Linked DNA regions of Homo sapiens: region 1 is linked to region 2. Evidence: fine-mapped expression QTL. A gene starts in region 2. The other region holds a variant in brackets. All regions are shown on one strand. Distances are from middle to middle. Region 1 has its middle 11 kb from the start of ZNF485. Region 2 holds the start of ZNF32 (zinc finger protein 32).

The links. PIP is the estimated chance that this variant, and not a neighbour inherited with it, causes the effect.
Region 1: its variant is fine-mapped to the expression of ZNF32 in whole blood (TOPMed, PIP above 0.99).

Annotation. Positions count from the first base shown.
Region 1 is chr10:43,593,722-43,596,624 of GRCh38, reverse strand. No RefSeq gene overlaps it. Among named protein-coding and RNA genes, the nearest start is that of ZNF485, 11 kb to the left of the region's middle. RefSeq lists an enhancer at 990-1,069. The variant C/A (reference allele first, on the strand shown) is at 1,275.
Region 2 is chr10:43,647,639-43,650,541 of GRCh38, reverse strand. It overlaps ZNF32 (zinc finger protein 32), which reads left to right and starts at 1,661. Exons shown (of 3, transcript NM_006973.3): 1 at 1,661-1,740. The region is part of intron 1 of ZNF32-AS3 (ZNF32 antisense RNA 3); the gene reads right to left. It overlaps ZNF32-AS2 (ZNF32 antisense RNA 2), which reads right to left. Exons shown (of 3, transcript NR_047558.1): 3 at 2,523-2,903. RefSeq lists a silencer at 1,636-2,155.

The DNA of each region.
Region 1 (2,903 bases), 54 kb after region 2:
CTTAGTTTTTGGATGTGAATCCACTGAGCCGGTGCGTGCCTTAAATAAACATCCTCTTATATTCCCCATTTCGATCTCTCTGGTCCTCAGTTTACCACAACATTTTGGCAAGCCAGCCAGGAGTGGAGATGACAGGCTTACTATCTCCTTTGCCTGTGGGGCTGGAGCCCCGGGTCAAGGGAAAACTGTGACCCCAGGCGTGGCTGGGAGAACTTCAGCCCAGAGGGGAGATAGGCTCTCCTGTGACCCAGTGCCCCTACCCAGCAGTGCAACAGAACCTGAGAGGGGCTACAGGAGGATTACCAGGAGCAGCATGCTTCAGGAACCACGGTAAGGTATTGGGGCCCAAGGCAGGACCTGTTCCATAAGGACAGAAGGGGAGCCTGATCACCTCCTGGGGTGTAACTCATAATCCGACCCAGAGAGGTAGGGAGCAGTGAGAGTGGCTCACCAATTTAGATTAAACTCACACCCCAACCAACACAGGATGCGAGAGTGGCTCACTAAGTTGGTTAGGAAAAGGAAATTGGAGGTGGTGAGAGTGGCTCACTACCCTAAATAGGAACACAGGAACTGGGAGTGGGGAGGTGTGTGAAAGTGTGTGAAAGAAACAGTTTCAAAAGGAACCAATGCGGGGAGTGATGTGGGGAGTCATAAATCTCTTAGCGTGCACTGTGTGCTCCAAGCAAAGTGTGGGGCTGACCTGGACTAGTGGCAAGCTGCATGCAACTAATAGGAGCTGCCCCACAGCTCAGAGTTGTGGTGGGAATAAGAACCCCTCCAAAGCTAAGCGGCATCTGAAAACTCCCTCAATAGGAGACAGTCTGGTCAGCCTGAGGCAAAAGGAACAGTGAGTGTACTGCGCCACAAAGGGAGGAATGGAAGGAAAGTCATCAAAACCCACTCCATTGGAGTGCAAGTTACAGACCTTTAAGAAATATTTTGCAGGGGATTATGGAGTTAAGCTGACCCCCCAAAGGTTGAGAACTCTCTGTGAATTAGAATGGCCTCCTTTTGGTATTGGATGGCTGACCAAAGGAACTATAGACAGGGAAATAATTGGCCATGTATTTAAGGTGGTGACAGGGGTCGGAGGACAGCCTGGGCATCCAGATCAATTTCTTATATTGACTCATGGTTAAATATAGTACAAACAAGACTGGCCTGGATCCAGCCCTGTTTAGCAGCTTATCAGAAAACACTTGTGGCCTGAGCTGAGCCAAAAATGAAAGTAAGAGCAGCTTCGCTGGCAGACACAGAGTTAAAGGGAAAGT[C/A]CCAGAGGAAGCAAAAGAAGCCAGTCTTGCAGGAGCTGCCAGAAGGAGCAGAGATTCTTCCTCCATGTGTTCCACCCTTTGCTGAGGCCAACAGCCCCCCAAGAACGAAATTCAGGAGCTAGCACACCCCAGGTTTCACCCCAAAGGGAAGGATCGGAGCCTCGAGAGGCCAGGGAAGGAAGTCAAGATAGTCAAGCAGGCCGTCTCAGATCTGACCATGCTTAAGCTATGCAAGTGCCTCTCAGGGAGACGTGAGGACCCATTTATTGTGATGACCAAGGCCAAGTCCAGGGGGGGCAACGGACTTGCATCTATCAGCCCTTTTCAACCACTGATCTCTTAAACTGGAAACACCATACTCCCTCCTATATGGAGAATCCCCAAGCTCTTATAGATCTGATGCAGTCCATCCTTCTGACACACAATCTAACCTGGCCAAACTGCAGGCAGCTTCTTCTCACACTGTTTAACACTGAGGAACACAGGAGAGTAACCCAGGCAGCTCTCCACCAGCTTGAAGCCCATGCACCAGCAGACACAGTGAATGCTCAGGCATACACTCCGGGCCAGTTCCCAGACCAAGATCCCAGCTGGGACCTGGAAGATGTGACCCAGCTTCAGCATTTGCAGAGGTACTAAGAGGCACTTCTGCAAGGGCTAAGGGATGGTGGAAAAGAGGCAATCAATATAGGAAAGATCTCAGAGGTGCTTCAGGGAAGTGATGAGAGCCCTAGCCAGTTTTATGAAAGACTCTGTGGGGTATACCAGCTTTTCACCCCATTTGTCCCTGAGGCTGTTGAACATCAGCATATGGTAAATACATCATTTATAGGACAGGCCCAGGGTGACATAAAGTGAAAGCTTCAGAAACTGGGAGGCTTCTCAGGCATGAATGCCACCCAGCTTATAGAAGTGGCCACTAAGGTGTATGTTAACTGTGACCAGGAGGCAAAGAAGGAAGCAGATCAGAGGCTTAAGAAAAAGGCCAATTTGTTGGCAGCAGCCCTTATAGAAAGAGAGATTAGTAATGTGAGAGGACATGGACATGGACGTGGATGTGGAAGAGGTCTAGTTAGACAGGGATTCAAGAGCTGACCAAGGCTAGAGAAGGATCAATGTGCACAGTGTAAAAAGAAGGAACACTAGAAGGATGAATGTCCAAAAGGCAATGAGGGAAATGGCCAAGGCTGTGAGACAAAGAGGCCATTGGCCAGGGGCTGCTGCACCCTAGAGGAACCAGATACTGATCTAATCGGGCTGGCAGGGGCTGAAGGATATGAGGACTAGGACAGACCAGGATCATTCTCATTGGGCCTCCAGGAGCTTATGGTCACATTAGAAGTTGGAGGACAATTGATGGACTTTATGGTAGATACTGGGGCTGAACACTCTGTAGTAACTCAACCCTTAGTGCCATTATCCAAGAACTATAAAACTATTGCAGGGGCTACTGGAGTCTCAGAGAAGAGGCCATTCTGCCAGTCAAGGAGGAGTGTTATAGGAGGATGAAAAGTTCAGCATGAATTCCTATAGCTCCTAAACCGTCCAGTTCCCTTGTTAGGGAGAGACCTACCTCAAAAACTGCACGCACAGGTTACTTTTGGCCCACAGGAAGATATGACTTTAAAT
Region 2 (2,903 bases):
CAGGTGGTGGGTGAGGATGTGCCCCATTTTGCAGCTGGGCAGTCTGTCTATGGAGGCTGGGGTCACATCAACCCCAATCCTAACAGCTTTCTCCCCTGCTTTGGGCCCTTCAATGTGTCCACTTTCCTGAGACGCCTTAAGGGAATTTATGCAGATCTATAAAAGTGACGATGGTCCCCCCTCACAGCCACCTTTTCCCACCAATGCTTTGTCATGTACCTTCACGGCAGGATCTGAAACTTGTCCTAGTGTCCACAGCCGGTCTTGACCTTAACAGAACCTATGTACCCTTGTGTGAAGCAGAGGCCGCAGCCTTAGGACTCTGAGCCTTGGCCTTTGCTGTGTGCCGCCCTCCACCCCTTTCTCAGACTTGGGAGGAGTGAGGAGAGGAGCCACCTGGGGCAGTTCAGGAATGGGGAGCTTCAGGACAGTTTGCACCACACACTCTGGGACTTAGCTGTGCAACACCCCGACCCCCATGTGAGGAAGGTGGTGTTTGTTTGCTCCACCAGACTGTCAGCTCCTCCCTAGGAGCACGGAGTGTGTCTTGCTCACATTCGTATCCCCAGTGTCAGCACTTAAAATGGATTCAACGGATAAATGTTGAATGAAATTCAGAAATGATGTGCAATAGTAAAAGCTAACATTTAGGAATCAACTTATTACTTACAGACACCTTTGCATATTGAGTGAAATTAAGTTGTTTGATTTAACAAATCTGTGGCTTTGGGGTAGAGAACAAGAACATAGCAAGAGGAAGCATTCTTTATTAGTCCTTCACGAAAGAGGATGGACAGACACATCTACGGAGAGGGGCTCCAGAGGCAGGGACCCAGAGATACACCCGGCCAGGCAGAACAGCTCCAGGATGTGGCCCCGATCCTGGAAAAGTGCGTTTAAAAGAGGCTTAAGGCATATCAGACAGCCTGGCCAACATGGTAAAACCTTCATCTCTACTAAAAATACAAAAAAATTAGCCAGGCATGGTGGCACAGACCTGTAGTCCCAGCTACTTGGGAGGCTGGGGCAGGAGAATCACTTGAGCCCAGAAGGCGGAGGTTGCAGTGAGGCGACACCGTGCCACTGCACTCAAGCCTGGGAGACAGAGTGAAGGAAAAAAAAAAACAGGCATTATTAGAGAGGCTTTATCTCCTACGTGTTCAAAAGCAACCATGCTCCTCCCAGTATCTCAGGACGACTGGACTGCCTGTGTTCCTGTTGCTCTTCACAGAAGCTCCATGAAAGCGGGCTTCGCTTTTGTTCATGCAGCCAGAGGCTCAACACATGACCTCGAAGCCGCCAAGGCTTTATCAAACGGATTTCTCCCAAAAACTTCGTTTCCTTCCGCGACGCCCTGCAAGAACCCTGTATTCCTGAGTCCCTGGCTCAGCGTCTGCTACCCCGATGCTGTCAATCAGATCCTGCTAATCTGAGCGGCCGTGGCTCCGTCCCGGCTCCGCGTCCGCTGACAGGTCACCGCTGTGAGTCTCCGGATTACCAGTCCAAACGGGACGGCTTGAGGTCCCCGCGCCCTAGGGACCTGCGGGGCCCGAGCGCAGGGCGCGCCAGAGAACTACATTTCCCACAGAGCTCTTGGGAAGCCGGGGCCGCCGAGACCCACGGCCCGGCGGGCGGGCTCGCGGGGAGACTCCTGGGAGTTGTAGTCCATTCCGCCGGCGCCGGCGCTGGCGCTGCTGCGGGCTCGGCGCCGGCCTTTGTCTGCGGGCACGCGCCGCTGCGGTGAGTGAGGCCGCTGGCCGGGTCAGAGCGCCGGGGCAAGGCGGGGCTGCGCCATCAGACCGCTGTCCCGGGCCCTCCGTGTGGCCGCCTTATGCCAGCGGCCGCCAAGGAAATGAGCAGGCCTGGCCGGCCCGGGCCCCGAGGGAGGCCAGCCGCGAGCGGAGAGGTCGGCGGTCCGCAGAGCAGGGTCCCGTGGACCGGAGAGCGGGATGCCGAGGTTCAGGACGCAGGGCGGGCCCGGTGCCCGGGGCCCGGGGCCTGAGGCGGGAGGGCAGCGTCTGCGGAGAGGAGCAGGGCCCATGGCGTCGGGGCGTGGGAGGGGGAGGCCGCGGCAGGCTCACCCGGCCTCCGTGCGGGCTTCAGCGAGTGCGGGAAGCCGGTGCCGGCCTTCCGGGGTGGGAGGAGAGGCAGCCCCTGCGGGGGAGAGTAGGAAGCCAGGCAGCGTGTGGGAAACCACGCTACCCACAAGCTCCTAAACCTGAAACTGGCCCCAGGACATTTTCCAGACCGCCAAGTGTACCCCTCTTCTCATCCGCCCTCCAGAGGACGCCGGATTTTAGATCTTAAGTCTGGTGGTCTCGTCTGATACTCCTCTTGTTTGGTTCTTTCCTTCTCATTGTCCTACCTGATAGGACAGTGTTAGTAACCTGTTTAATAAGTGGGGAAGCAGAGTCAGGGCTGCTGGGTTACTCGCCCAAGATCATATCCTGGGGGAGCCACGGCAAGAAGCCAAGACTCACGGACTACTTCTAAGCTTTTTCCAAAGGATATAGTAGCCTTTCTAATAGGAAAATCAATGTTTTTAATTATAAAGCCACTTTTACAAAATCTTGGGGAAACTGCTTCCTCAGACCTGTGATCTAGGGAGAAAAATATGACAATTTCTCCCTTACTAATCACGGAGGTCCCTGATAGGCGGCGGAGTTGTAACTTGAAGACCTCACAGCAGGTGGAGAGGCAGAGCTGTGAATTCTACTCTAATTTCTGGAATCCCCGGCGACAGAGTCCAACCCCAGGCAGCAGGCGCCATGTACCCCAGGGACTTTTAATGTGTGTGCAGCTGTTGAGCAAGAATACCTTGAACTTCCAAATGATGTGCTGGCATGCTGGTAGGGAATTCCTTTGCAGCTTGTGTTCCAAGTTGGAAGTGAGTCCTCCAAATA